3 separate regions of the Homo sapiens genome follow, and regions 1 and 3 are each reported to be linked to region 2. Evidence: microRNA targets listed by miRTarBase, many of them from high-throughput screens and not tested one by one. Region 2 holds a microRNA gene; each other region holds the end of a gene's coding sequence.
Evidence for each region. Region 2 holds the annotated microRNA hsa-miR-148a-3p (UCAGUGCACUACAGAACUUUGU, at 1,222-1,243, shown strand). A microRNA usually pairs through its seed, bases 2 to 8, with sites in the 3' UTR of a target mRNA and lowers its output. Matches are read on the target gene's strand: a 7mer-m8 pairs with bases 2 to 8, a 7mer-A1 pairs with bases 2 to 7 and ends in A, and an 8mer does both.

Region 1: the mRNA of OR2C3 is a reported target of hsa-miR-148a-3p. The part of its 3' UTR that is shown has no 7-base or 8-base seed match.
Region 3: the mRNA of GOLIM4 is a reported target of hsa-miR-148a-3p. The part of its 3' UTR that is shown has no 7-base or 8-base seed match.

The regions. Positions count from the first base shown.
Region 1 is chr1:247,528,844-247,531,843 of GRCh38, forward strand. It overlaps OR2C3 (olfactory receptor family 2 subfamily C member 3), which reads right to left. Exons shown (of 3, transcript NM_198074.6): 3 at 1-3,000. The coding sequence ends at 2,706. It overlaps GCSAML-AS1 (GCSAML antisense RNA 1), which reads right to left and starts at 1,961. Exons shown (of 4, transcript NR_027309.2): 1 at 1,747-1,961. It also overlaps a transcript of GCSAML not described here.
Region 2 is chr7:25,948,001-25,951,164 of GRCh38, reverse strand. MIR148A (microRNA 148a) reads left to right here and starts at 1,179; the gene lies at 1,179-1,246. All of the region lies in intron 6 of LOC105375199 (a long non-coding RNA gene), which reads left to right. RefSeq lists a silencer at 86-225 and an enhancer at 3,069-3,138.
Region 3 is chr3:168,007,511-168,010,510 of GRCh38, reverse strand. GOLIM4 (golgi integral membrane protein 4) reads left to right here. Exons shown (of 16, transcript NM_014498.5): 16 at 93-1,822. The coding sequence ends at 242. Among named protein-coding and RNA genes, the nearest start is that of GOLIM4, 87 kb to the left of the region's middle.

The DNA of each region.
Region 1 (3,000 bases), not on the chromosome of region 2:
GCACAGATCATGAAGATATCTGTCTGACATAAATGCCCATGAGAGGGCATCCACTGCAGAGATGGATCTTGGTGGTATGGTAGATAAGATGACTCATCTAGTAGGTAATCAGTCAATCTCTTTTGCCAGCAGGCTTGCTCATTGAGCCTATGAGAAATTTAACATGGAAGCAGGGATGGAAACTATGAATGGGCTCAGCATTATGACATTTCTCTCACCAAGGTTAGCATGTGATTTGGCACTATTTCCAGGCGTCTGGCTGGACTAGTAGCATAGTGATTACTCTGGACTCCTTTGAGCATAGAGTAAGCAATGTTAGTCTTTATAGGGACAGAATAATATTGTGGGGACAGTTTTGTCTTCCATGCCCGAACCATTTACATAGTGAACAAAGCCTTAATCATCACCATGGCATCCCCTGCAATATCACCTGTAACCAGGAAACATATTTCACAGCAAAAGGGGTGTGGCAATAGAATTGCCCTTGGAATTCATGATTCATACTTCATACCTCAATATTCAGAAGCAGTGGGCTTGACTGAATGATGGAATGGGCTTTATTGAATGATGGAATGGCCTGCTGAAGGTTTAGTTATTGAAGCTGAGAAACAATACTGTGTAAATAAGCACTGCTTTCCTGCAGGCTGCAGTGTATGCCCTAAACCTGCAGTCACCGTAACCTGATACATGAGTCCAGAAACCAACAAGACATGAGAGTGTCTCGTACATGATGCATAATAATCCAGTTGAAGAATGTTGCTTCACTTCACTGAAAGTTTGGGTTTGGTGTGATGGTTCATTTTACATATCAACTTGGTTGGACTATGGTGCCCAGTTTTTGTTCAAACACAAGCCTCGGTGTTACTGTGAAGGTGTTTTTTTTTTTTTTTTTTTTTTTTTTTGATGCGATTAACATTTAAATCAGTAGACTTTTAGTAAAGCAGATTACCCTTTATAATGTGAGTGGGTCTCATCCCATCAGTTGAAAGCCTTAAGAGAAAAGACTGACCTGCTTCCAAAAAGAGGGAATTTTGCCTCCAGACTTTGAACTCAAGCTGCAACATCAACCTCTGTCAAAATTTACAGCCTGCTGGCTTGCCCTGCAAATTTCAGACTTGCCAGTTCCCTAAATTGTGTGAGCCTATTTCTTAACTCTCAATCTCTCTCACTCTTTTTTCTCTCTCTCCCCCTCAGGGTGTGTGTGTGTGTGTGTATTCTCTTTTACACATATTTTTGGTTCTGTTTCTCTGGAGAACCCTGACTAATACAGTGAATTGGAAGATCCTAGTACGAAAGGAAAGACTACTTTAATGACTACTTTCATATTATATACATATATATAATAAAATCAAAAACAGGAACTGCCACATGGTTTTGGTCTTCCCATGCCTTTGAATCATCAGGCAGAGAATGAGGTTACTCTATTGATAGAGGTGAACTCTAGTGATAGGTTACTCTATTGATAGAAGTTCTTTAACATCTGGAAAGACTAGCTGTTGTAAATTAGGACTCGTTTGTCCTTTAGATACACTGTATACATAGATAAGTAAAACAAAATGCACAATCATAAGAAACAATGGTGAATCTCGCCTCACTGTAAGCACACTGGCTTAGAGCTCTCTGCACCTCCCTTTTCCCCTCCTTCCCTGAACCAGTCCACAAACACCATGCCATCCCCCCCCCACAAAATAACATTTCCTATGAATTTTAACAAAAAGTTATTTACAAAATGTGTCATTTTACTACCTCTAATTTTAACATGTATCAGGTACTTCAGAACATCTAGAAGAAACAGACATCTCAAAAAAGCTTAGCGTTGTTACCTCTATATACAGAAGTAATAAAATGCACACAAAACAATGGATAGAATATGAAAATGTCTTGGAAATACGACCCGTCAGGACTAGGTAGGTCTCGCCCAACTGCGACAGAGCGGTCGCCCAGGACGTGGACCTGCCGGCCGCCTCTGGACCGCCTTCCTCGCCCTCCACAGCCTAACGGCCTCCGGGCGCATTTGGGCGGCGCCATGTTTCCTCCCCGCTTACCGCCGCCACCCGAAGGCGCTGAGTCCCGGCGGCTCGGCGCGGTCTTGGTCTGGGTCGGTGGGGTTGGGCCGGGAGACCCGCGGCCGGCGGGGTCCAGGCTGGGGGAGGCCGCCGCTGCCACCAGGTCCCCGAGGTAGGGTAGGAAGAGGTTCGCCGCGGCTTCAAGGCCTGGGCCGAGCGGGGGAGCCACAGCGAGGGTTCCGGAGCCTGCAAGGCGGAGTCCCGGGCTCAGCTCACCCCAGGCGCAGGCCTGAGGGCTGGGAGGGCTCCGGGGGCTCTGGGGAACAGGCCGGCTCCGGTCTCCCCGCGCGCTCTCAGCGTCGTCAAAGTTTATTATCCACGGAGCGTCCTGGAATCCACCCGCTTCGGATACTGAGGAACAGCTGAACAACAACGCAAGGAGTTTACAAAACAAGATGACAGTCAACATGTGTATATATAGCAAAAACCAACAACGCAATTGAACAAAACTATGATAATTAGCAAATAATAAATGTATTTTCTTGGTCTGGAAATGGCATGAGCACACTCCTTTCAGATTTCCATCTACCTTGAGCTCAAACAATATTAGAAGAAAAACGACATCCCAAGTGCCCTGTCTTCCAAGGTCACTTTGCTCGATGTAAACTTGATCTTCCTTCTCAGAAGGCACTGGAGTCTCTAAATTTGCGCCAGCTTGCCTGCAGAGCCACAGCAGTTCTCTAATACCATGTGCCGGAGGGCGCTCTTCACCTCCGTGTTCCTCAGGGTGTAAATAAGTGGGTTCAGCGCAGGAGTGACTACGGTGTAGAACAGAGCTATGAACTTGCCCTGCTCATGGGAGGTGCTCTTGGCTGGCTGGAGATACATGAAGATGATGCTCCCGTAAAACAGAGACACCACAGCCACGTGGGAAGAACAGGTGTTGAATGCCTTTCTCCGCCCTTCTGCTGACCTGATCTTCAACACGGCCCGG
Region 2 (3,164 bases):
CGTCGGCAAAAGTCAAGATGGAAGGGAGCGGAGCGGAGCGCGAGGGGGGAGCCGGCCCGGGAATGCCTGGCGGCCGGCGCTGGAGGGGCAGGCTGGGGAGCCTGCGGCGGGCGCACGAGGGGCCACTCGCGAAGGTGTCCCGGCCCAGCGCGACCACCGCCCCCAACCCCGGGAGCCTCTGGGCGCCCCGCACTCCGCCAGCCGCCCGTGCACCCCGGCCCGGGGGACGCAGCCCACTGCCCCTCCGGCCTTGTCTCTTAGGGGTGGCGGGGGATGGAACGGTGGCGAGGGGTTTGGGGGAAGATGGGAAAGCACTTTCCAGACCTGTTGCACGCGCGCAACAGCTGTTCAGGTGCGGTATGTGGGGGGAGGGGGTCTGCTAGGATGGGGGACAGAGTGGTCGCTTATGCTGCAGGGAAAAGGGGGTGCCGGGAGGGGGAGAAGAGCAGTCTTGGGGACTGTGTGCAAGGTTGTGCGCGAACGGGGTCCGCGGGAAGCACTGCCTAATGGGGCAGGGAGAATCCCAAAGAGTGGGTGGGTGGAACGGAGGGGATGGGACGACTTCGACCCGAGTTCCCGGGGCTGGGCGCGGGCGGCTGGAAGACCGGGAATAGAGTACTGGGAATGGCTGGGGAAGGGGGTCTCAGGGGAGGCCCCGCAAAGCGGGTCTTTCTTGGGTCGTCCCATCTTAGGGGCTTTTCCCGGGCCTGTATTTGTTCCCCACCGTTTAACTCTTTCAGCTCCGAATATTCGTCCTCGTGCAGCGCCCCCGCCCCCAGCTTTCCAGATGGGAAGGTAAAAAGTTGCCACAAGTTAGAGTGAGTTAGCTGCTGGCAAAAGTTTAAATAACTACCGAGGGAGGTGAGGGTTCGACCAGGAATGGGTTCTAATCTGAGGACGGGTAGGAAGGAAGGAGAGTGTGCGATTCTTGCAGCCCCTTTGCTGTGACATTGCGACCAGAATTTGTCGAATCGGGCTGTTAAAACACCATTTCTGTTGGGCATTTGCTCCTGCTGACTGCGGCAGTAACTTTCCATAATTAATGACCCGTTCCATTATCGGTCGCATCCTGAACTAAATTGCTTTTAACGAGTTATTCTTCTTTGTCTTAGCTGGGGGGTGGGGGAACACACCTGCAGGAAGAAACTTCTGGAGGAAGACAGCACGTTTGGTCTTTTGAGGCAAAGTTCTGAGACACTCCGACTCTGAGTATGATAGAAGTCAGTGCACTACAGAACTTTGTCTCTAGAGGCTGTGGTCGCCGATGCCGCCAGTGCTCCAGACGCCAGGCCGAGTGGCCCTGGTGGCCACGTCGCTGCGCCTTTCCCTTGGGGGAGGGGCAAGGCCAGAGGGGGTCCAAGTGCAGCACGAGGAACTTGACCAATTCCCTTGAAGCGGGTGGGTTAAACCCTGTAAATGGGAACAAAATCCCCCCAAATCTCTTCATCTTACCCTGGTGGACTCCTGACTGTAGAATTTTTTGGTTTAAAGAAGAAAAAAATAAAGCTTTGGACTTTTCAAGGTTGCTTAACAGGTACTGAAAGACTGGCCTCACTTAAACTGAGCCAGGAGAGCTGCAGATTTATTAATGGGTGTGTTAGTGTGCAGTGCCTTGCAGGAATTTAAACTCTCTACCCTTAAAGAAGGAAATGTATTTGTACAAAAGCCACAGATAATGGTCCTTTTACTCAAGCGACCTGCTGGATAAATGACAGCCTGCAGGGATTGAGTTTGGAGATCTAGTCTCAATTCTGCTTCCGATTTAGATGCAGTTCACTTTTGTTTTTTAAAGTAAGTTTTATTAATGGAAAGGAAGAACTTTTTCCAAGAAAGCATTTTGAAAGCCACTGGGGGAGGGGGACATTTATGCTTTTGGGCTGTGGAGATCCTTTAGGTGGAGAGACTGCTCTCTCATCCCTAGTGGAATGGAGGTTTGGGTTGGTGAGTTTCTATCAATAGCCTGCTCTCTATAGTGGGTCAGTGACTGGCACCAAATTGTAGTCCTGTTCCATGGACATTGCCCTGTTTTGGTTTTATGAGCTTTTGGCCAGGCACAGGACGCAGGGTGGTAGGGAAAAAAGGAAATGGTTCCTGTGCCCGTGGTGCTGACAGGTAAGGGAAGGGCCTTCTGATGTATTTTATGGGATGCTTCAGAAACCTGGGGGTTGCTTGTGTCTCTGGGAAGCCCTTGGTAAAGAAAGCCACCATTTTTTTTACTTAGGTATATTCCAGTGGTTTATCATCGGGAGAGGGATGATAATGGAGGAAGGCTCAATGAGGGAGAAAGTATTCAGCTGCTTGATGTTAGAGCTTAATGGCAGGACCTACCAGTTGCTTTTCACAGAAATGCTGTGTATTGATCCTAAGGCAGCATGTGTTCTCTTTTGTGTGGCCATTATCCATTCTCCCACTTTTCCATCAGTGACTGCTTTGCTTTTGTTCCTCAATCCTTTACCCAAAAATGGCTGAATTATTTCTGTGCAGTTAAATAAAGTGATCCAAACTCAAGTACGTCTTGTGTTCATTTGAGATGTAAGGTATGCTTACTTGAGGAAGAGGATTCTCTTTCCTAGTTCTTATGTCTGTACATCTCCACAAGATAGTCTGAATATACTGAATTTTAAGAAAACTTAAATCAACTTTGTAAGAGAATGGGAGGTAAAGAGTGGAGCGGTTGACTGGGAGAGTAGTCATCCATACAAAGGAATTAGGTCAGGATCTCTCACCTCCAGAGAAAGGCAAGGTTTGGAGTCCCTGACATGATTCAGTCTGGTTTGACTTCTATGCTTAAGTGATTTGCATTTCTCCTGTTTGTGACCACAAGTGAGTTAAGGACTAACCAAGCAGGAGGGCTGTGGTTTACTCTGGTGCTAAGGATGCCAGGAATAGGAACTGGGAAAATCGGCAGTCTTGGGGTGCTTACTGTAAACCTGGCATGGTCTCATAGACCTCAGTCGTTTAGCAATCAGTGTATTTTCACCTCCCGAGCATCAGGTGTTACTCTAGACGTTACGAATGCAACAGTGAACAAAATAGGCCCCGAACCCTGCCCTCTTGGAGGTCTTTCTCATGCAAGAGGTAGACAATACAAATATAAAATAATCAGAAGGGTGATAAACGTCAGGGAAGGAAGAACAAGGAACGCTGGGGAGGCCGTGGTGTTC
Region 3 (3,000 bases), not on the chromosome of region 2:
AATGAGTAATTTTTCATCCTGTTTTTAGAGAGAATTATTTATCACTAACTCTATACTATCTCTTAGTTTTTCTTTTTTCTTTTAATTTTAAGACTGATGATAAAAATAATGATGGAGAAGAGCAAGAAGTTCGAGATGACAACCGCCCCAAAGGCCGAGAGGAACACTACGAGGAGGAAGAAGAGGAGGAAGAAGACGGGGCTGCAGTTGCTGAGAAATCACATCGAAGAGCTGAAATGTAGCGGCACCCAATTTCTAGACAACGCTCAGCCAACGGATTCTTTTCAAGCTGCTCAAACATAAATCTGCCTACTGAACTCTAGGATATTTAATTACAAAAATTAAGAACTTAGACTTTTTTAAAACTTTTGTATTAGAAATGCGCATACATTTATATGAATATATTTTGATAACGTAGGTCTAGAGCTTCTTTTATATTCAAGCTAAACATGAAAAAGAAGAAAAACAATAAAGTAAACCTGAGCCCCCACGTCCCAATTTTTTTAATAGATTATGTGATGTTGGAAAGCTCATTGATTTTGTATATGTTTCAGCGTGTTACCTTTCTGGCTTCCAGTTCCCAGGTGTTCTTTGTTTGCCTTTGATAAAATACAGGATTTAAGAACAGAGAGTACTGCAAAATGCCATGCAGACTTTAAAGAGAATGGCCTGTTTACTAATTGCTGCCCTTCTGATGTCTTTATGTATAGCTCTGATAGAATTTTCACCAGTCTATGTATCTCTGGAGTGAGATCTATGTACAAAGTGACATACAATTGGAAATCCATTTTTGTTGTAAAGACATTGTTTTTCAGACTTTTCAGATCAATTAGAAAAATGTCATTGCTTTAAAATCATAGCTGTTCTGTTTAAGAGGAATTGAATTTAAAAATGAGAGAGTATTAAAACTCATGTGGCAGTATCCTGGTCTTAATCAGGTATTGCAGTGTTCAAACAAGGTATGGACACATCAACATATTCACCTTTTGGAAGGACTAGTGACTTGGTTAAAAACTAATGAGTGTTTGCGTGTGGTGTTTCTATGCGAGCACCCATTCTCAATTTTTTTTTTTTTTTTTTGTTTGAAGCCATTGATTGATATTCTTGTTTCAGTGTCTGGTTCCCTATAAGTAATATATATTTCCTCTTTAAGCTCTGTGCCTCAATATGCAATCACTTTGATAATAAGTATAAATATGAAGACATACCAAACTGCAAATAGGATTATTTTTCAAAACTATATGGTGAAACATATGGTGATATGATAGACTTATGGTTTTTCTGTTTGCTGGGATTGGGTCTGCTTTTTGCCTATGTGTAAGGCATTTTAATCATTGTGAATATAATAGATTCCTTAAAATAAGAAAATTAAAAATCAGAAACTTCCCTTGGAGTAGAGACATTTCAGTTGCAAGCATAAAGATTTTTAAATATATAACACTAGGTTATATAATTCATATATGTGTGGTTTTGTATTAATAATCAAATTAATAAAAACATTTCATTTTCTACCATTGTATGAACGTAATTTTATTTTTTAATAACCACACTCATAGATGGTTTTGATTGTTCCAGTTGAGTGATTGTGTATGTACGCATAGGAATGTTTTGTTCAGTTGTACTTTGTATTTCCAATAATCAGAAATCTTACCTTTATGTATAAAAACCCATTATGTAATGTAAAATGTATAATATTGTACATAATATTCAGAATACAATTATTTTGGTAAATTAGCTTGTATTTTTAATGTCCCAGTTGCAGTATTTAATTATTTGAACCATACTGAAAGTTGGTAATAGTCAATAAAGCTAAAAAAAAAAAGTGGCAAATCTTTTAAACTATGTGGTCTCTTATTAGTTTATGACCTTCTAACATTCTTCACTTCTTTTTCATAAAAAGAAAAATTTTAAGAGATACCAATATAAATTAATGAATTATAAAGTGCCTTTTCCCACCTGCTTCTGTTTTCTGTATCTTTCTCTACTTGGATTGGCATGTGATTTTCCCTTCTTTTTCTAAAGAAAGAGCTAAAGATGTTTATTTTATTTGAGCTAGCTCTGAGGGAAGAAAAAAGAAATGGGGCAGAATGTATGAGAGTGTCATGTGCATGCACACACAAAAAATAAATGAAAAACTTTAAATCCCCTTAGGAAAGCAACAATCACAAACCATTCTACTCTCTGTATAGCACCAAGTTACAGAGCCATTCTAACTAATGTGTAGAGGAGAACTAATCAGCCTGAGCTGATCTACGTTAATGAGGTGACAAGAAATAAAATGTCACCAGTATTTATTCTGCCAGTCTGTGACTTTGGTGCAACCAATAAATCAAAGGATTTGGTACCAAGAGTATAGTCGGGGTGGGGGGTGGGGGTTGTGGGAGGAAGGCACGTTTATTGGCAATGAGTATAACGGGGCACAACAAAACTAGTACACATGCAATGACTGGTTATTTGCAAGAGTGATTGGGAAGAGTTCTAGGAGTAAAAGCATAATCTTAGCCACATGTGCCAGTGACTTAATTTTACAAAGGAAAACTTGACGTGTATTGAATGCCCTCATAGTGTAAGAAGTATGTGAATAGGATCCACTTCAATCCCCACAGTATTCCTGTAAGGTTGATGGAATCCGCTTCTCACAACTGAAGAACCTTGTCTTCCAAAGCACTTAACATTTAACTTCTTTTAATGCTTAGTTTTGTTTTTAGTTCTATTACATTGTAGTACATCTATACTATGTCATCTTACACAGCCATTAAAAAGAGTGAGTTAATTCTATTTCTCAATCACCTTCTGTGGTTTCTGTTTTACTGTTTTCTCCTAGTTTTTTCCTAGCATACTGACTACATTATCTTTTTTTACAGGTTCTTCTTATGCCTGCTCTTTCAATATTAGTGTTCCTCAGGTTTTGTACTAGAGGTATTTTTTCTGTTCAATCCTCTTCCCATCTATGTGTTATACAAATGTCTTGAATCCATTTCCTTAGCCTAGCTTTCTGTG